3 linked regions of the Homo sapiens genome follow. The protein of the gene in region 2 purifies or fractionates together with the protein of the main gene of each other region. This does not show direct contact. Each region holds a gene or a part of one and is shown on either strand. Other genes may lie near its edges. The genes, in order: DNAJC13, MUSK and RBSN.

Evidence for each region.
Region 1: the proteins of MUSK (region 2) and DNAJC13 purify together in Homo sapiens (affinity purification with mass spectrometry; 2 studies listed by BioGRID and IntAct, with this or other methods). This does not show direct contact.
Region 3: the proteins of MUSK (region 2) and RBSN purify together in Homo sapiens (affinity purification with mass spectrometry; 2 studies listed by BioGRID and IntAct, with this or other methods). This does not show direct contact.

Annotation. Positions count from the first base shown.
Region 1 is NC_000003.12:132,497,455-132,504,566, reverse strand, and holds part of DNAJC13 (dnaJ homolog subfamily C member 13), read right to left. Parts: intron 5,442-7,112; coding exon 5,257-5,441; intron 4,834-5,256; coding exon 4,759-4,833; intron 3,774-4,758; coding exon 3,654-3,773; intron 2,279-3,653; coding exon 2,099-2,278; intron 1,354-2,098; coding exon 1,186-1,353; intron 1-1,185.
Region 2 is NC_000009.12:110,664,362-110,671,880, forward strand, and holds the start of MUSK (muscle, skeletal receptor tyrosine-protein kinase isoform 1 precursor), read left to right. Parts: upstream 1-4,429; 5' UTR 4,430-4,543; coding exon 4,544-4,622; intron 4,623-7,519.
Region 3 is NC_000003.12:15,082,118-15,089,229, reverse strand, and holds part of RBSN (rabenosyn-5), read left to right. Parts: intron 1-3,268; coding exon 3,269-3,369; intron 3,370-4,184; coding exon 4,185-4,230; intron 4,231-4,333; coding exon 4,334-4,495; intron 4,496-6,621; coding exon 6,622-6,863; intron 6,864-7,112. UniProt on the Homo sapiens protein: Rab4/Rab5 effector protein acting in early endocytic membrane fusion and membrane trafficking of recycling endosomes. Required for endosome fusion either homotypically or with clathrin coated vesicles.

The sequences.
Region 1 (7,112 bases), on a different chromosome or scaffold from region 2:
TTTTATTGAATCCAGTTGGAGCTCATGCCAACATTTAATTTTGAAATGCTATAAAAAATTTTTAGTGGGGGTGGCTATAAAGGTTAATCCCAAACTTGTTGGCATTTCTGAAGAGAATGCTTTCAGTCAGCAAAATGTATCACATTGGTGAGCAAAAAGTCCAGGAAAATAACTAACATCAGGAGTGGTCCCTGGTCGTCTAGTGTTTTAGGAAAAATAGTAAAAACAAAAACAAAATTAAAAAAAAAAAAAAAAACCAGTAGCATCTAGAGCTCCTGCCTTTCACACATGGGAACTGAAAAGCATGGCAAGCACTGAAAATTGGACTCAATCACATTGGATTAAAAACAAATAACCTGTTTAAAAGTTGTAAAAATACTTTGGAAACCTGAGGATTTTTTCACTTACAAAAGTCACAGTTCATCCTTAGCGAAAACAAAAGAAAAACTGCCTATAATTATGCCATTCAGGAATAATTACAGTTAACATATGGGTACAAATCTATCAATCCATTTATTTTGTTATACCAAAAATAGGATCTAGTGTCTTCATTTATTTTAATGTCTTTTAGTACTCTTTTTTTTTTTATAATTAAAGGATAATAGTAACCTGTTTAACTGATTTCTATAGTTTATCAAATTCTTTAGTGCTACATTCTCAGATTATTTCTCAATAATCCTTGCAAAAGAAGTTAAAGAGGTTGGGAGATCTATCATGTCATACTGATTTTTGTAATGCATCTATGTATGTACATAGATACATATACATGTATATGTGCATGTATGTATTTACTTTCAGGATTTTAACCCTGTGTCTGAATAAGCTATGGCTTACAATAAATAGCTTGAAATAGACTCTGGGTCTCCTGTCTCCCAGTAGTCTGCCATTGTGAAACACCATTCCAACTTCACTCTCTCGTCCTGTCCCTTTGTGACTCAAGGTTGGTAAGAATTATGATAGGCTCCACAGCTGAGAAACAAAGTTAATTTGCCCTTGCAAAAACTGGACTTGTAGAACTGACATCATTAGCATCAATCCATTATAAAGTGAATTTCTTGCTTGAGAGAACAAACATGTGAACGTTCTTAATTTTTAGGTTCCCTAGATCAATATTATTGTACTACTTTACTGCTTAAAGGATCTTGCACTATTGATTAAAACCCAGGCTACCTGTGAAGCACATACCTCAGTCACACTAGCCACAGCAAGTTTTCTAGCAACATAGGGTGTCAGCATGCCAGCTAAGCTTTTCCTTATGGTTGGATTTTCTGGAGTTGCTTGTTCTTCAGCCAAATACCCTCCAAGGCGACTCAGAGCATGGACACTCAGTTTGGCAAGGCTGTTTGCTACCTCCTGTTATAAAAAAAATTAAGTTGTTAAAGTAGATCTGTTATCTTACATAGGTAATACTATAATTTTACAGAATCACACTATATGGAACATATTTAAGGAGTAAAAAGTCAACCAACAAAAGGGTACAAGAGTACCTACCACTGAGGTAAACATCAGAAAGTTTATGTGTTGGGGCTTGTTTTTTATTTATAAGAAGGACCAGGAGAATCTATGTACTAACTTATACCCAATGCAGTATATCTCACAGACAACTGGAAGAAGCACATTTGGTGGTAATGTGGGGAGTAGGGGATAGGTAGGCAGCCCTGCCTGCTAGAAGCACACATTTACAATATGAGCAATAAATGAGAGCACATAGAAGAGACAGAAAAATATCTATAAAAATCAGACAAGTACTCAAGTGTTTAGGGGAGCTAGCCTCAACTGCCTGATGGTAACATTATATTGTCCTGTGTTACACAACCATAATTTTGCCATCATAAAGTTGACTCTGAGTAATTAAGAAATTATTAAATTATGTCCAGTATATGCTATTGCAAATTCCCTTGCCTGGAATCCTTTAAGCATAAGCAATTACAACTAAAAGTTTTGTAAGTAAGTGATTAGGTTTAAAAAGCAAAAAACCTAATTTTCCTGAAAAACAATTTATCTCTGGGGACTCTGGATAGCAGCTTTGGTTTGGATTAGTTTAACACCAACCTAAGGTTTGGGTTCAAATTCAATATTAAAGCAATGTTAAAGTTACCTGCTGGTTTGTTTCTTCACTTTTCTGAATGCCACTCTCTTCTAGTGTGTAGTCATAATTAAACAGAAAACCAAGGAGATACCACAAAATTCCAGCCTGAAATAGGTGTGTCTGTAGCCAGAAATCCACAGCAAAAGAACTGACACATTCTACCCCAAGAGCAGCTACGCGGGGAATACTCTGAGAGAATAAAAATGAGAGCATTAGTTGTTACAGAGTTAAAAAAAAAAAAAAAAGCTCCCAAGAGGAACTGGTTGTGCATGTATGTCAAGCCAACCACGTTATTTTGTAAAATGTTTACCTCTTCTTACATTTTCAATTCCAATTTAAATCTGAATCCTACATCCTTTAAAGCCTAAAATTAAAAGTGACCTCATGACGAGATACCAGAATTACTACCTTTAAGGCTAATGTCAGAAGACTTGGGAATAGTTTCCTGTTTCACTTCTTGTATTTTTAATTTTTAAAAATAGTGACATGGCATCAATAGCAACTTACACGCTAGTGATCTTAAATGTAACGACATATTTTGTGCAGTTGTTAAAAGATTTATTTATGTCAGTTTTTTATTCTGTAATCAAATACTTCTAAGGACATTAAGTAGATATAGTAGAGGAGATATTTTCATCAATTCCCTCACTTCTTGATACTTTAGTACTAGATCAGCATCTCGATCCTGTTTTATTCAAGACAATTCTCACTCTGCCCAGTTATTTAAGACATTTCTCTCTCCCTCCCAGTCATCTATCTCATCTACCCACAGTCAACCTTCCTCAGCAGGTCTGGATTGGGAGGAAATAGTAAGTTCTCAGATCTCTAAAGCCTTTCCCACCAAGCAGTGCCGAACTCTCTAGTTTTCAGGTTTTACATGGCCCTGTTTTTTTTTCTTTTTTTTTTTTGAGACAGAGTCTCACTCTCTTGCCCAGTCTGGAGTGTAGTGGCACAGGCTACCTCTGAAGCATATATCTCAGTCACACTAGCCACAGAAACATAGGGTGTCAGCATGCCAGCTAAACTTTTCCTTATGGTTGAATTTTCTGGAGTTGCTTGTTCTTCAGCCAAATACTCAGCCTCCCGAATACCTAGGATTACAGGCGCATGCCATCATACCCAGCTAATTTTTGTATTTTTTTGTAGACAGGGTTCTGCAGTGTTGGCCAGGCTGGTCTTGAACTCCTGACCTCAAGTGATCTGCCAACCTCGGCTTGCCAAAGTGCTAGGATTACAGACGTGAGCCACCACACCGGGCTGGCCTTTTGCTTTTAAAAGACTTATTTATTACAGGCTTCTCTTTTCTCCCTGCCACTCATTCTAATGTTCAGATGGAACCCACTTCCCTTTAGATGTATCACTTTAGTCTTTTTCTTTGTAGGCCAGCCTAGAAGCAAAGCCTCCATTTACAGCAAGGCTTCTGTGAAAAATGCTTTTAGAAATCCAAATAATTTTACTTACAAATAACTTTGGGAAAACAATGTGCTTATACATTAGGAACTGGCTAGTTGACAAAAAGACACTTTGCTGTCTGTATCTAGAAAGCATTAAAGATTAACCCTACCTTGCCAAAATATAGTACCCGACAGAGATCCTTGATGATGCTAGGCATTTCCGTGATCTTCTCTCGGCATTCCTCAAACTGAGCAGCCACACTGTAGCATTTACTTATGTATCCACACACCTGCAGACAACACAACAGAGCAAAAAAACCAGTAGAGTCACATAGGCATTCCTTATTTAACACATAGAAATCAAACCAGCAGAAATTTGTGAATAATGCTTAATGGTATATACAATGTTCCAAAATTAAACAGAATGTCTTTACTAGATCACTAGTCTTTCTCATTAAGATTTCCTATAAATGCTGGGGTAGTTGGCAAACCACAGCTACTACAACCCATGGGCCAAACTGACCATGGTCTTTGTACTGCCAAAGAGCTAAGAATGGTTTTTAGATTTTTAAAGGGCTGTAAAAAAGTCACAAAAGAAAATGTAACAGAGACTGTATGAAGCCTGAAAGACTCATATATTTACTCCCTGGACCTTTATTTTAGAAGTTTGCTGGCCTCTGGATTAAGGTAATTTTGTATAGTTTATTAACATAGCAGAATATCACAATTCTGTTTACACAACGGACTTCAAAATAGAGGATGGAACTCAACAGCCAGTACTCGTTTTATATTCTGAATTTTGCTGGCATAAGCAAAAGGTCAAATAGAAAGACACGCTCTACAAAGCTCTTAATGAACTCCTGATGAATTTCCTATCTTACAACCTTAAATGTTAAGCCAATTAAAATACTAGAGATAGGAGAGTGAGGGATGGAAGATATGTGAAACAAGAATGGCATTAAGCTGGGTAATGGAAACATATGGGTTCAATAAACTATTCTCTAAGAAAGAAAACGTAAGCCAACAGATCACAAGTGCTTTAGTACAGTTTCTTACAGTGTGATACACAGACCAGCAGCATCAATGACACTTGGAAACTTGTTATAAAAACATACTCTCAGGCCACCACCCCAGACTCACTGAATCAGAAACTTGGGGTGGGGTGGAGCTCAGCAACCTACAGTTTAATGAGCCCTCCAGTTGATTCTCAGATATGTTAAAGTCTGAACCATTGAACTAGTGCAATTTTCTTGGAACCACAGGTTTTAGCCTCACCTGTACTGACATGTCACTTGGTTTACTAGCACGAGTCAAGACAGCCACACAGCGACTAAATGCCTCTTGTAACACCTGCAGAGGAAGAAGTCAGCTATTAACTCTCCATTTTGACTTCAAGTCTGAAAGGCCTTTTCTAGCAGTAATAAAATATAAATAACCCTTTAATGTTAAATATTTGATACATAAATGTTTGATCAACATTTGTTAATAAATAGTAAACAAAGGACTCCTAAAAGTTTCCTTTTAAGCATTTCTAATAAGCTACTTTGTAAACAATATTACCATTATCGGTTTTGAACCCAATACTTTCCAACTCACATTGTGAAATAAAGCTCCATTTCTACCTTTAATTTGGTATAAGAATATGGAAAATATTGTGTTATCTGCTGAAATAAATTAAAGAATCTGCATTTGTACTTGCTGAATTCTTCACTGCCAAGAGTCATATAATGTGTGTAAACTGGCTTAAAAAGCACAAAGGTCACTCCGTATTACCTCTAGTCCATTCTCTCTTCTGAGCTCTTCAGCATTGAGGGCTGAACAGTTGACAGTATGGAAAGCTAGCTCTGTAGCCGCAGGCAACAATGGTGATTCTTTTGAGAAAAGGAGGTCATCTGAAGTTTCCATTGTTATAGTCCGAATAAGCATGGGGTATCCTGCATATTTATAAGGCTGTAAATCTGAAATAACCAATGGTTAGTGTTAGAAAAACAAAACAAAATTGATTATGTTGTGGTTTCAATTTTGATACCATGTTCAAGAATATGTTGCCTTAAAAAAATAAAAATGGGGCCAGGCATGGTGGCTCATGCCTGTAATCCCAGCACTTTGGGAGGCCAAGGTGGGTGGATCACGAGGTCAGGAGATTGAGACCATCCTGGCTAACACAGTGAAACCCTTTCTCTACTAAAAACACAAAAAAGTTAGCCGGGTGTGGTGGCAGGCACCTGTAGTCCCAGCTACTCGGGAGGCTGAGGCAGGAGAAAGGTGTGAACCCGGGAGGTGGAGCTTGCAGTGAGTGGAGATGGCACCACTGCACTCCAGCCTGGGCGACAGGGCAAGCCTCCGTCTCAAAAAAAATAAAAATAAAATAAAATAAAACGTAAAAAAAAAGATAAAATATTTTATCTTAACATCTTAAATGCCTCCTAATGCCAGTTGATAAAAAAAGAAATTAAACCTACTATAAAATCCCTTGGATCCTTCCTTTCTAGTAAACTTGGTTGATTTTTCTAAAATGTTTCCACTAGAAAAATAACATTTTCTGGTAAATTAACTGCACTTGGTGTATAGTTTTGATCCTTTGCAGAATACCTACTTTCTATGCTGATCTTTGTAACTTTTCACCTCATCACAGAACGCAAGGTACAGCAAATGCACCAGAAATTCTATTAATATCAATTATATGCACATCTTTATAAAGAAAAAAGACTGAGAAGACATTTACATGACACTGAATATTTTATATTAAGTTTTCTGGATAACAAGTGCCCTTGTTTATCTATTTTACCAGTATCTATTTTACCAGTTATCTTAAAGATAACTGGTATCTATTTTACCAGTTATCTTAAAGTTTTACCAGTATTTTCTTAAATTTGAAAATAATACAATTTCTTACTAGAAGTACAAAACAGAAAGTTAACTTTTAAACTACATTTAGTTAATTCCATGTTTTAATAACCAAATTTAAAAGTGAAAGCTAGTAAACCTACATGCCTAATTACTCTGTTCTTTCCATCTTCTTTTTTCAATCTAACCTATTAGGCAAAGAGATGCAAATTAATTGGCTGTGACTTTAAAAGTATCTCTATAATTCCAATTGAAATCAGCATAAATCTTTTTGACTTTTGAGGCTGACCAATAATCTGCCTTAAAACTCATTTCTAAACTGGCTTTTAAAAAAAAGGCCCCCTGGAACAGGTCCTAATTTTCCTTTAAAAAAAAAAAAAGTGACACATACGTAATAAGAAAGAACAGTGAATAACTAAGTCCTGTCAGATCAGGACCTCCACCTCAGAGCTTCTTGGGTATAAACCCCTCTTGGGAAAAGTTAAAGATGACCTTGATAACAGAGAAACCAGGATGGGCCATAACTGTATCTTGTGGCTAATAATTTAGTTATCAGCATTAAAAGACAACCAAGGGTTTTGAAAAAGGTTTCCAAACTCATTCTGATTAGTAAAAGCCATATATCTAAAATGTATTATAAACGTATTCTGTTAAACTCATGTAAAAGTAAATCAACTAATCACTGCTCTCTTTAATAATCCAACTGCTAGATCCTCAGGTTGTCCCCTCCAATACTTAAACTGCAACACCATCTCTTGTCTTTAGTTACCCAACACTCTCCA
Region 2 (7,519 bases):
ATATATTGTACAGTTATACAAAAATAGTTTTTCTTCATATCCTTAAGCTCTTTTCTATCTTAAAATTTTATTTTTATTTTTTACTTTCTAAACTTTTTTTGTTAAACACTAAGACAAAAACACACAATAGCCTTGGCCTACACAGGGTCAGGATCAAAACATCACTGCCTTTCAACAGCTTGTCCTACTGGAAGGTCCTCAGGGGCAATAACACACATGGAGCTGCCATCTCCTATGGTAACAATGTATTCTTCTAGAATACCTGCCTGAGGCTGTTTTACAATCAATTTTTTATTTATTTTTATTTTTTATGTTTTTAAATAAGTACAGGGTATACACAGTAAAATAATAATAAAAATATAGTACATTAAAAAAACCAGCAACATGGTCATTTATTATCATTATCAACTATTATGTACTCTACATAATTGTATGTGCTTTTTTATTCAAAAAGAAAATCATTAAGAACACAGCAATATTAATATTTATTCTTTTTTTTAGAAGAACCTGATTTATTTATTTAATTTTTTTATTATACTTTAAGTTCTGGGATACATGTGCAAAACGTGTAGGTTTGTTACACAGGTATACATGTGCCATGGTGGTTTGCTGTATCCATCAACCCATCATCTACATTAGGCATTTCTCCTAATGCTATCCCTCCCCTAGCCCCCCACCCCTTGACAGGCCCCAGTATGTGATTCTCCCCTCCCTGTGTCCATGTGTTCTCATTGTTAGCTCCCACTTATGAGTGAGAACATGTGGTGTTTGGTTTTCTGTTCCTGTATTAGTTTGCTGAGAATGATGGTTTCCAGCTTCATCCATGTCCCTGCAAAGGATATAAACTCATTGTTTTTTATGGCTGCATAGTATTCCGTAGTGTATATGTGCCACATTTTCTTTATCTAGTCTATCATTGATTGGCATTTGGGTTGGTTCCAAGTCTTTGCCATTGTGAATAGTGCTGAAATAAACATATATGTGCATGTGTCTTTATAGTAGAATGATTTATAGTCCTTTGGGTATATACCCAGTAATGAGATTGCTGGGTCAAATGGTATTTCTGGTTCTAATCCTTGAAGAATTGCCACACTGTCTCCCACAATGGTTGAACTAATTTACACTCCCACAAACAGTGTAAAAGCATTCCTATTTTTCCACATTCTCTCCAGCATCGGTTGCTTCCTGACTTTTTAATGATTGCCACTCTAACAGGCATGAGATGGTATCTCATTGTGGTTTTGATTTGCATTTCTCTAATGACCAATAATGATGAGCTTTATTTCATATGTTTGTTGGCTGCATAAATGTCTTATTTTGAGAAGTGTCTGTTCATATCCTTCGCCCACTTTTTGATGGGGTTGTTTGTTTTTTTCTTGTAAATTTGTTTAAGTTCTTTGTAGATTCTGGATATTAGCCCTTTGTCAGATGGATAGATTGCAAAAATTTTCTCCCACTCTGTAGGTTGCCTGCTCACTCTAATGATAGTTCCTTTTGCTGAGCAGATGGTCTTTAGTTTAATTAGGTCCCATTTGTCAATTTTGACTTTTGTTGCCATTGCTTTTGGGGTTTTAGTCATGAAGTCTTTGCCCATGCCTATGTCCTGAATGGTATTGCCTAGGTTTTCTTCTAGGGTTTTTATGGTTTTAGGTTTTACATTTAAGTATTTAATCCATCTTGAGTTAATTTTTGTATGAGATATAAGGAAGGGGTCCAGTTCCAGTTTTCCGCATATGGCTAGCCAGTTTTCCCAACACCATTTATTAAATAGGGAATCCTTTCCCTACTGCTTGTTTTTGTCAGGTTTGTCAAAGATCAGATGGTTGTAGATGTGTGGCATTATTTCTTAGGCCTCTGTTCTGTTCCATTGGTCTATATATCTGTTTTGGTACCAGTACCATGCTGTTTTGGCAAACCAGGAAGAAGCTGAATCCCTGAATATACCAATAAGAAGTTCTGAAATTGAGGCAGTAATTAATAGCCTACCGAGCAAAAAAAAAAAAAAAAAAAAAAAAATCCAGGACCAGACGGATTCACAGCCGAATTCTACCAGAGGTACAAAGAGGAGCTGGTACCATTCCTTCTGAAACTATTCCAATCAATAGAAAAAGAGGGAATCCTCTCTAACTAATTTTATGAGTCCAGCATCATCCTGATACCAAAACCTGGCAGAGGCACAACCAAAAACAGAAAATTTCAGGCCAATATCCCTGATGAATATTGATGTGAAAATTCTCAATAAAATACTGGCAAACTGAATCCAACAGCACATCAAAAAGCTTACCCACCACGATCAAGTTGGCTTCATCCCTGGGATGCAAGGCTGGTTAAACATATGCAAATCAATAAATGTAATCCATCACATAAACAGAACCAGTGACAAAAACCACATGATTATCTCAATAGATGCAGAAAAGGCTTTCAATAAAATTTAACACCCCTTTATGCTAAAAACTCTCAATAAACTAGGTATTGATGGAACCCATCGAAAAAAAATGAGCTATTTATGACAAACCCACAGCCAATGTCACACTGAATGAGAAAAAGCTGGAAGTATTCCCTTTGAAAACTGGCACGAGACAAGGATGCCCTCTCTCACCACTCGTATTCAACCTACTATTGGAAGTTCTGGCCAGGGCAATCAGGCAAGAGAAAGAAATAAAGCGTATTCAAATAGGAAGAGAGAAAGTCAAATTGTCTCTGTTTGCAGATGACATGATTGTATATTTAGAAAACCCCATCATCTCAGCCCCAAATCTCCTTAAGCTGATAAGCAACTTCAGCAAAGTCCCAGGATACAAAATCAATGTGCAAAGATCACAAGATTCCTATATACCAATAACAGACAAACAGAGAGCCAAATCATGAGTGAACTCCCATTCACAATTGCTACAAAGAGAATAAAATACCTAGGAATCCAACTTACAAGGGATATGAAGGACCTCTTCAAGGAGAACTACAAACCACTGCTCAAGGGAATAAAAGAGGACACAAATAAATGGAAAAACATTCCATGCTCATGATAGGAAGAATCAATATTGTGAAAATGGCTGTACTGCCCAAGGTAATTTATAGATTCAATGCTATCCCCATCAAGCTACCATTGACTTTCTTCACAGAATTAGAAAAAACTACTTTAAATTTCATATGGAACCAAAAAAGAGCCCATATAGCCAAGGCAATCCTAAGCAAAAAGAACAAAGCTGGCGGCATCACACTACCTGACTCTAAAGTTCTATAAATGAACTCACGAGGCCAAAGAATGAAGAAGACACCAACACAAAGGGGAAAAAATCAAAACAATATGGTCATTGCAATGGTAGAGATATGCACAGTATATTATGGAAACCCAGAGAAGACAAACGTAACACAGCTTTGGGAAGATATGGAATTTTTCTCCCAGGAGGAGAGGATGATCAAGCTGAGAGATGTGTGAACTGAGTGGAAAGGAGGGGAGTAGTATTCCAAGAGAAGCAAACAGTATGAGCAATTCATGGAGGTAGGAAAGCTGTATACAGGGAACCATCAGCAGGTTGTTGAATAAAGGAAGCTGAATGAGGCTGGGCACAGTAGCTCACGCCTGCATTCCCAGCACTTTGAGAGGCCGAGGTGGAATCATCATTTGAGGCCAGCAGTTTGAGACCAGCCTGGGTAACATAGCCTGACCACATCTCTCCAAAAAATAAAAATAAATTAGCCTGCTGTAGTGGCAGTGCCTGTAGTCCTAGCTACTCTGAAAGGATCACTTGAGTCCAGGAGGCTGAGGTTGCAGTGAGCTATGATTACCCCATTGCACTCCAGCCTGGGCAACAGAGCAAGACCCTGACTCTGAAAAAAAAAAAAAACAAAAAACAAAAACAGGATCGTAAAAGACAATACTAACATACAACAAAGCATGCAGATTCCAGTAAAGCCTGTCATATTAGGCAGATTAGGCAGGTTTAAATATATTTTTATGTGATGATGAGCCCCTAAAGGCTTTTGAGCAGGAGGGACTATCTGAAAAAAGATATAGAATGGTTAAGACCCAAGACAGAGAGAAGGTACAAGGACTATTTGGTTGATAAAATCTGTAGGAATTGGAATGGGCTGAATGTGGGAGTGGGGGTGGGGTGAGAGATGGGGAGGACTGAAGACTGAATAGACCCAGATTTCTGGTTTGAGTCCGGGAGAGGTGGGGTGCTGAATTCGAAGGTCAGGACACCTATACCTCTGGGAATACAGCGATGGTTGCAAAAGGCATCTGGTATTGTCCTTCTGCCACTGTCTTAAAAGGGATTCTAAAGGGATTTTCTTGCCCTTGTTCCTCCAGCCCTACACTTGCATTACTGGCCTACGTGGATGCTCACCAGCTGGCTGTGTCCATCATTGCAGCCAAGTCTGAGAATTCCTGATTATACTTAGAGCCTGTGGAGCTGCTGACACAAACAGTCATTAGCAGACAACCCTTTTGCAACAAAGTATGCTTTAAAATGTAAACTGTGGAGCCATTTTCCTTGCGTTGTCCAGAAGGAACTTCGTCCTGCGTGAGCCTGGATTAATCATGAGAGAGCTCGTCAACATTCCACTGGTACATATTCTTACTCTGGTTGCCTTCAGCGGAACTGAGAAACTTCCAAAAGGTTGGTTTGAGCAATCGTGTCTTCTTGTTGTCTTGTCATGGTTGTAAAGTGTGTGTATATGAGATATGACCAAGACTGATTTATAGTATGGTGGGCTTGGGTTTTACTTGAAGAAGTAAGGGTGAAATGTATGATGAGGGAGGAAATTATATACATAAGCAATTGGTTGATGGTCTCTCTACCAATATTTTACTCCGAAGTTCTGCAATAAAAGGCTTAGCCACATAGTGCATGCAGAGCTCTGACTTCTAGGGCAAAACATAAGCATGTACACTGCAAGTTATCAAGGTCTATTTTGTTTATGCGAATGTCAAATTTCAGGGTGGTCTAAGTGGATGATGACAACCTTTTCGCATCAGGTTTGCCAGGAATAGAATCAACCCCATTCTCAGACATCCAGAGCATTTGCTTCTGAATAAAAATCACTTTTATTTTCAGTTTTAGCTTTGCCAAACTCTTAATAAATATTTTAGTTGCTAAAAATTGGAAATACAGAAAGACGTACACAATTTGCCTGTGTAACAAACCCGGAAGACAATGGATTTTAAATAACTTTGAGGCTGGAGTCATGATTTGGCTTGGCAAGAGACTGCAAAAGTTTTTTTCAGAGCCTTTGGAATGTACCGGAAATAACACCACCTCAGGGGAAAGGAAAGCAACTTAAGAAACTGACAAACACCTGTTGCAGTAGCAAGAATGTCCAGTGATATAGTTTCTGGCCAGTGTATTATGAAACTGGGACTAGCGTATTTGAAATCAGAAAGACTGGAAAGTCTGTGATTTGCAAAGTGACTAAGGGTATCACTGAAATCTTTTTTTAAAAAGACATGAGAAAGCAGATCGAGTGGTATCAATACAAGAGTTTTCAAATTTAATGTTATACCATAGAGTAAAAAGAGATTTTTGCTTCAGGACATGTTCAAATTAATCATTTTCCCTTTATATTAATCAAAGCACTGAAACAGTTTGTATTGTGTAGATAAATGAAGGTGGTATCTGTATATAGATGCAAAATGTATCTTTAGATTTTCTGGTTCACTAAAAATTCTGGAGCCATAAGGTCAAAGTTCACATGCAAATAAGATGCGGGTTTCTTCACAAACAATCTGATTTCACAGATTTTTTTGTTTCATTTTGTTGCTTCTCTTTTTCCATTTTACTTGAGTATAATGGTATCTTCAAATGTATTTAAACATTTAATTTCTAATGAATACTTTAAGGCATCTACAGATAAAAGAGACTCTAGATCTTTTCAAACAGCTAATAATAGTCAGAAAGACTTAACATTGGCTTCAGATTATTTTAATACTTCCTGATCAAACAACGGATGTCCGGTAAGGCCCCACCTGGATGTTTGAACGTATGGGTTGTCTTAAGTATTATTTGTATATTTCTAAACCACGCAGTTACATAAAAATGATAGGGTTAAATACTAAAATACAGTCTTATAAAGAGCAGGACAATTGATTTTGATGATTCAAATAAGGATTTGTTGTACACACACACAAAACCCCCAAAATCTCTCTATCTGAATAAGTCTTAATTTATATTCTAGAAAGAATTGATTTTCATTTCCAAACTTTACAAATAAAGCCCTTAATTCAAATGCACACTATCTCTATTTTGAAAATATTGAAATATAGTGGCATAGAGATAACAAAGCCAAACACCCTGACTTTTAAATAAACTAACCAGATCATTCACCCAATTTCATTTCTTATAATTTATTTACTACTAGAATTAGGTTTTAAAATCAAAAAATTTAAGCAATTTTTTCTCAGTCTATTGTACTGTAAAATCTAAATTAGTATGAGTTTAACATCACTCTTAGCCAAAATACCATGTCTAGGAGAACAAACATTTATTTACTACATACAGCAGTTCTGAGAATAACTAATATCATGAAAGCATAATCCTTAAAATTTTAAATGTTGAAGGGTGAGGAATACATTGGTAGAAAAGAACCACAATAAAATTTTATTATTTTCATTATTATTATTATTATTTGAGACAGAGTCTCGTTCTGTTGCCAGGCTGCAGTGCAGTGGTGTGATCTCAGCTCACTGCAACCTCCTCCTCCCAGGTTCAAGCTATACTCCTGCCTCAGACTCGCAAATACCTGGGACTACAGGTGCAAGCCACCACACTCGGCTAATTTTTATATTTTTAGTAGAGACAGGGTTTCACCATGTTGGCCAAGATGGTCTCCATCTCTTGACCTCGTGATCTGCCTGCCTCGGCCTCCCAAAGTGCTGGGATTACAGGCATGAGCCACTGCGCCAGCCATTATACTACTGAAACTAATAAAAATGGCCCACCCAAACTATTTCTACTATTTCTAGAAAACTACTGTTTTCCCTATTCTTGGCAGACGGTAATAACAAAAAGAGTTTTTTAGATAATATACTTCTTCCTAAGTCCTTTATCATGAATGCATAAAGGAAATTGTACAATATGTATTAGCTAATAAATTGACATATTTAAAATAACACAAAAGTATTCAGTGGATTATTTTCTGACTTTCTGCACATCATTTTTTGATAAAAATTAATATCCAACTTTGTAGAATTAATTGTTCATAGTTTTCATTTTAGTTTAATTAAGGCTACTAATGCCCAATGATAAGGGGAAGAATCATTGTCTTTCTGAATCATTTCAACTAGTGATATTTTCAATGATGAATTCAGTGCCATAACCCAAGTAGTAGAATTTCACAAACTGTCATTTATGAAAGTAGCCAATGTTCCACTGGATAATTGGCTTAACTACATACATCAATAACATTTAATGCTTTATTAGGGAGTATTAAATGTATGGTGCAATGTTAGATTCTGCAGGAGCATAAGAGTTCATGTAAGCAGCTCTGGATTTGCTTAATATGCACAAAGAACTATCAA
Region 3 (7,112 bases), on a different chromosome or scaffold from region 2:
CCTCCCAGAGTGCCAGGATTACAGGTGTGAGCCACTACGCCTGCCTACATATCCTTTAACCGTCTAATGATAACAGTCATTAATATAATAAAATATTTTCTGTCCATGAAATGGGTAATTATTCCTTTATTTATTTATCATTCCCTTGTGATTTATTCAATTTTCATGTTTATGATCTTGTTCACCTTTCACAAAAGCCTTGTGGAGTAGTGGTCCTTTTTCCCATTTATGGATGAGGAAACTGGAGCTCCAAGAAGGAAAGCGAAATTTACCCAGGCTCATCTACTGTATCTTTTTAGTGCTGTTATAGAAGGTGTCTCTTTGAATAAGGAAAGTCCTACAACTGTGCTGTCCATTCAGTAGCCACCAGTCATGGGCTATTTAAGTTTAAATAAATTTAAATGAAATAAAATTAAAAGTCACTTCCTGTAGCACACACTAACCACATTTTAAGTGTTCTGTGTCCACTTGTGGCTATTTGCTACTGTATTGGAGAATGGAAACATTTTTGTTATTGCAGGAGAAAATTGCTTTAAAAATAATACTATACAGCCGGGCGCAGTGGCTCACGCCTGTAATCCCAGCACTTTGGGAGGTCGAGGCAGCTGAATCACAAGGTCAGGAGTTTGAGACCACCCTGGCCAATATGGTGAAACCCCGTCTCTACTAAAAATACAAAAAAATTAGCCAGGTGTGGTGGCACATGCCTGTAATTCCAGCTACTCGGGAGGCTGAGGCAGGAGAATTGCTTGAATCCAGGAGGCAGAGGTTACAGTGAGCCGAGATTGCACCACTGCACTCCAGCCTGGGTGACAGAGCGAGACTCTGTCTCAAAAAAAAAAAATAATAATAATACTATACATATGTAATTATGAGATACATATGAAAGCCAATCCAAAACATGAAGGAGAAATTTTGGACACATGAATTCTTATTAGCTTTGTTTCATGATTGCCCATGTGAGATTACTGGGGTGATTTTCTGATTAAGTTGCCAGTTGCAGCAACTGAAGACAGTCACAAATTGTAGAAGGTCAAGTGAATGGCAAATTTTAGAAGTTAATATTTATTTATGATAGCTTGTTTGTGATACCTTGTTTCATGATTGCCAATGTGAGATTACTAGGGTGATTTTCTGATTAAGTTGCCAGTTGCAGTAACTGAAATCACAAATTGTAGGTCAAATGAATGGCAAATTTTAGCAGTTAATATTTATGGTCACCCCTAAGAATTCTAAATTAAAGTTTAATTAGATGTTAGAGTATGATTAGGGAAGAAAAGACATGTGGATGGTTAAGAGTATAGCATGTGTGGCCAGGTGCGGTGGCTCACCTGTAAACCCAGCACTTTGGGAGGCCAAGGCAGGTAGATCACATGAGGCCAGGAATTTGAGACCAGTTTGGCCAATGTGGTGAGACCCTGTCTCTACTAAAAATACAAAAATTAGCCTGGCATGGTGGCACATGTGTGTAATCCAAGTTACTTGGGAGGCTGAGGCATGGGAATTGCTTGAACCTGGGAGGTGGAGATTGCAGTGAGCCTGGAGATTTCGCCACTGCATTCCAGTCTGGGCGACAGAGCGAGACTCTGTCTCAAAAATAAATAAAGAGTATAGCATGTGGAGATGCTGATCGAAGGATACAAAATTTCAGCCGGGAGGAATAAGTCAAGAGATCTGTTGTATAAGGTGGTGATTTATAGTTTTTTGTTTGTTTGTTTTTCTGAGACAGCCTTCCTCTGTCACCCAGGCTCAAGTGTGCTGCTGTGATCTTGGCTCACTGCAACCTTTGCCTCTGGGTTCAATTCTTGTGCCTCAGCCACCTGAGTAGCTGGGACCACAGGCGTGCACCACCATGCCCAGCTAATTTTTGTATTTTTAGTAGAGACAGGGTTTCACCATGTTGGTCAGACTGGTCTTGAACTCCTGGCCTCAAGTGATCCATGCTCCTCAGCCTCCCAAAGTGCTGGGATTACAGGCATGAGCCACCGCACCTGGCCTGATTATAGTTAATAAAAATATCTCGTATTCTTGAAAATCAGTGAGAGTAGACTTTGTATTGTCACCACAAAAAGTGGTAAGTATATGAAGTAATGCATATGGTAATTAGCTTGTTTAGCCATTTCCCAGTGTATAAATATTTCAAAACATCATGTTGTACACGGTGAATATATGCAATTTTTATTTGGCAATTAAAAAATTTTTTAAAAGCATGGCATGTGACAAATTCTGTTACATTATAGTCTATAAATGAATAGATGATCATTGGGAAGAGGACATGCACTGAGTGCCGGGAGGGTTGAGGACAATATGTTTCTGGAACAGGTGAGACTGAGCAGGGGATATTTCAGGTTACTCAGACAGTAAGCTATTTGTGTTGCAGACATTTGTCCTGGGTTTTGGCTGCTGGACTGAGGAAGGTATCAGCTTAACTATCTCCCACAAGGGAATCTACCAGCATTTACATTTTTTTGGCCATTTTGAGAATTGTCCTTATCCTGAGGAAAAACCATATTGTATCAAATTTATAAAGTATAAAACAATAAGATAATTCAAAAATGTTTAAATCACCCATAATGTTCCCACCCTGTTTATTTAACATTGGCATGAGAGTCAGTTAAGACTTTACAAATTTTAACTTATTTAATCATCGTTAACAACTCTGTGAAGTAGATACCATTATTATTCCATTTGATAGTTGAGTACTCTTAGAGTTACAGAGATGTTAAGTAATGTGTCCAAGGTTACACAGTGTGTGGCAGAATTGAAACTTGAGCACAGGCTGACTCCAGAGTCCATGCTCTTATCTGCTCTACTCTCAGGTCTCTCATATGGTACTTGGTGGCCTCCAAAGGCGGTTAACAATTTAGCAGATTTTCTTCCATTTGCTTTCCTGGTTTTTGAATTTTTGGTAAGGCTCTAAAATCCTAGAGTTTTTACTTGCTTTTGAAATATATTTTTTTTTCTTTCTGAAGTTGGTCTCACTCTGTCACCCAGGCTGGAGTACAGTGGTGGGATCATAGCTCACTGAAGCCTCCAGCTCCTGAGCTCAAGCCATCTTCCCGCCTTGGCCTCCCAAGGAGCTGGGATTATAGGCGTACATACCCATGCCTGACTATTTTTTTTTTTTTTTTTTTTTTTGGAGAGAGACGGGGTCTCGCTATGTTGACCAACCTGCTTTTGAAATTCACTGGGATAAGAGGCAAGGTAGAGACTAGGCTCCCTCAGAGAAACTATAAGTCATTTGTCTCCCTACCTTCCTTCCCTCTAGGTGCTGTGAGAAGCCATCTTTCCGACTTCAAAAAACACCGAGCTGCTAGAATTGACCACTATGTTGTGGAAGTCAATAAACTAATAATCAGGTTAGAGAAGGTAAATTTTGTTGTCTTAAAACATTTTTTTCTACAAATACACATTTTCTGGGGAAAAATAATCACATTTCTATAGCCTGTGTTGTATATATCATATACATCTGATGGTGGCAGAGAAACACCTTCTCTAGAGAGGTGCAAAGGACATGGTGGACAGTTCTAGCCTGGGCCAGCATTCCTTAAGAGAATGGCCCAGGTTGACAAACTTGCCACATGCTTAGCTTCCCTTTTCCCACCTATGAATCCCACTCAGGTGCTGGAAAACCTTTCTTCCTTCAGATTCTTCTTTTGGGTGTCCCAGGCACAATCATCCAGTGAGGTGTAGTGTGTGATGGCAAACAAAGAAGTGGTCACCAGGTCTCACGGGTGTATTTTCATCCTAGTTGTGCTTGTTGTGTGTAACCTGGATTGTGTGCTGGGCATAGTAGCAAGCACAAGTACAGTTCTTTATGTGTACTTTGTAAGGCAGAAATATGTGGCCAGTTTTAGGGTCCAGGAGCACCGTGGAGAATGGAGAGTTTTCTGTTGCTTTCAGTCGTTGCCCTTACCCATCCTTGCCTACCCCTGGTTATTGCTAAAATGGGTAACTGACAATAAAGAGATTAGAAGTGGGTTATAGGAAGCGAGGTGGGTTCTAGATGCAAAACTAATACCCTGTCCCATGTGAAATTGTTTTTGTGATTTTGTGGCGTTGGGGATGACAGATGAGACTTGAGGAATGCAAATGTGCTAATTTCCCACTTGATGTATTGGAAAGTGTGGAGCATGTATACATCACCTGGTTAATTTCATTTGGCACTATTTTCTTCCGGTCAGCTCACTGCATTTGACAGAACAAATACTGAGTCTGCAAAGATTCGAGGTAACTTTAAAACTTTGCTCACATTCATCTTATTATCTTTTTTTCCCTGACCAAAGCTCTCTTTAAAATGGCCTGCTTTCTTGTTGGTTTGCTCTTCCCAAAGCAATAGAAAAGTCTGTGGTGCCTTGGGTCAACGACCAGGATGTCCCTTTCTGTCCAGACTGTGGGAATAAGTTCAGCATCCGGAACCGCCGCCACCACTGCCGCCTCTGCGGGTCTATTATGTGCAAGAAGTGTATGGAGCTCATCAGCCTTCCCTTGGCAAGTAGGTGACTTGGAGGTGGGGCCCTGGACCCTCATCTTCTTTTGGGCCTAGCTTATTTGCTAATTACCACTGGGATCGTGGAACCTTTTTGTTAAATTAATGGCTCATGGGAATCTTCATTCATTGAGTTGCTGTTTCTGTGAAACCCACTACAGACTAGGTACTATGCTAGGGGCCAGGGATACAGTGGTCTATAACAGGGATTGGCAAACTTTGTAAAGGATCAGATAGTAAATACATTTAGGCTTTGTGGGCCACATATGGTTGCTGTGACATTTCTTCTTTCTTTAAACAACCTTTTAAAAATGTGAACACTAGACTGGGCACAGTGGCTCATGCCTGTAATCACAGCACTTTGAGAGGCCAAGGCAGGCGGATCACTTGAGGTCAGGAGTTTGAGACCAGCGTGGCCAACATGTTGAAACCCTGTCTCTATAAAAATACAAAAATTAGCCTGGCGTGGTGGCATGTGCCTGTAGTCCTAGCTACTCAGGAGGCTGAGGCAGGAGAATTGCTTGAACCTGGGAGGTGAAGGCTGCAGTGAGCTGAGATTGAGCCACTGCACTTCAGCCTGGGTGACCGAGCGAGACTCCCATCTCAAAAAAATAAATAAATAAAATAAAATAGCAATGTGAAAATTATACTTAGTTTGAGAGCCATATAGAAACAGCCTGGAGGCTGGACTTGGCTCACAGGTCATTTTTTGCCCATTTCTGGCCTATAAGCCTATAAGGCATTGTCCATTCTTCCAAGGAGTCTAGCATCTATCAGGGGATATAAACTCACAAATAAATAATTGCTTTCTAAAGAGAGATGTACAATGAAAGAGACTGTCAGGAACTCAGGAGAGGCTGACCAACTCTTTGTCTGCTCTGCTTGGAAGTGGCAAGTGTGACTTTGAGAAGAGGGTCTTGAATATAAGCAGTGGGCTAGTCCCTTCCTGTGGGATAAGTCACAGACAACTCACTGCCATATAGAAAAGACTAATATCATAATATGAGAGATGCTGAGTGCTGTGGGCTCAGGGACAGTGAGAGCATGCATGCTTAGGGCTGGGAGGTGATGTTCAAGAAGAGCCTTAAAAGATGAGTAGGATTGCAAAAGAGATGGAGAAAGAGGACATTTTAGGTAGAGTGAAGAGTAGGAGCAAAGGCATGGAATTCTGGAAAGCCCAGGGTAGGTTAATAGATGAGCAAATAGAATAGTTGGGGGTGTGTGGAGGACAAAGTTTAGGTGGAACCCGATCCTCCAGGACTTTGCAACCAAGCTGAGTAGAAGTTGCTGAAGATGATCTCATTGGCTTCTGGGAAGTTTGGGGTAAATTTGCAACACTAGAGAGTTCTGCTGACTGTGCACACTGTTGGCCATGGGGTGTCTGGATAATGTGGGGACAAAAACAGATGCTTCTTCTTTCCAACTCTCACATATACCAGGTCACTGTACCTTGATACTTTCTCCCTGAGACCAACTCCCTGTCTCACATGAGATTTTATAAGCTGCCTTTTTGGGACACTATTCACCCTTCTTCTCTTGAGCTCTTTAGCCAGCATTTACTGGGCAGCTGCTGTGGGGTGGCCCTGCTGGATATGTTAAGTGTACAAGTGTGAGTAAGACACAGTTCGTACCCACAAAGAGTCATAGGTTCCTAGGGCAGCTCTGGGGTGTACATGCAACTGTACACAGGGAGAAGAGTGGAAAGTGCTCCAAAATGGGCAATGTGGTGGGAACTGATGGGAAGGATGGATAGTTTTTGCCTCAGGGAATTGGAAAAGGCTTTCCTGGAGGACCTGCCATTCAGAGAGGGTAGGAGCCAGATGTTTGGGAATAGGGAGAAGGCTGTGGAGGAAAGTCTCCTGGGAGAATGTTTGTTGTGTTGGAGGCACAGGGCAAATGCAGGAGAGTGGCAGGTGGAAAGGGAAGGCTGTTTGGATTTGGAGGGGCAGCAGTGGAGTCCTTTCTCACCAGAGTCTGACACCAGGAAGGCAGAGGGGCAGTACGTGCCCACAGCTGGAGCCTGATCTTATTACTCTCCAAATCAAACACCTGTGGACTGACACCTTGAGGTCGTGGGTATGGTAATTGGATGCTGTGGGGGTCATTGCTGCCTGTTGGTGTTGTGGTTACAGACAAGCTCACCAGTGCCAGCAAGGAGTCCCTGAGCACCCACACCAGCCCCAGCCAGTCACCCAACAGTGTCCATGGCTCCCGCCGAGGCAGCATCAGCAGCATGAGCAGTGTCAGCTCGGTCCTGGATGAGAAGGACGATGACCGGATCCGCTGCTGTACACACTGCAAGGACACGCTGCTCAAGAGAGAGCAGCAGATTGATGAGAAGGAGCACACACCTGACATCGTGAAGCTCTACGAGGTGATTCGCGCTGTCTGGTCTTGGGTCTAATTTCTTAGGCAGATTTGGCTGTTTGTTATGTACACTCCTGCAGATTCTGGAGAATGCTTTGGGAAGTTGTTCGTTTGAATTATTTGTAGTTCCTGTTAAAGGCCCATGTTATGATTTCCCAGCTAGGGCCCTGTGTGAGTCAGAGTCATCCTGGGTGTGTTGCAACAAACTCGTTTCAAGTGGCCTTCCTTGGCCACTTGAAAGCAGGTGGGTGGAAGC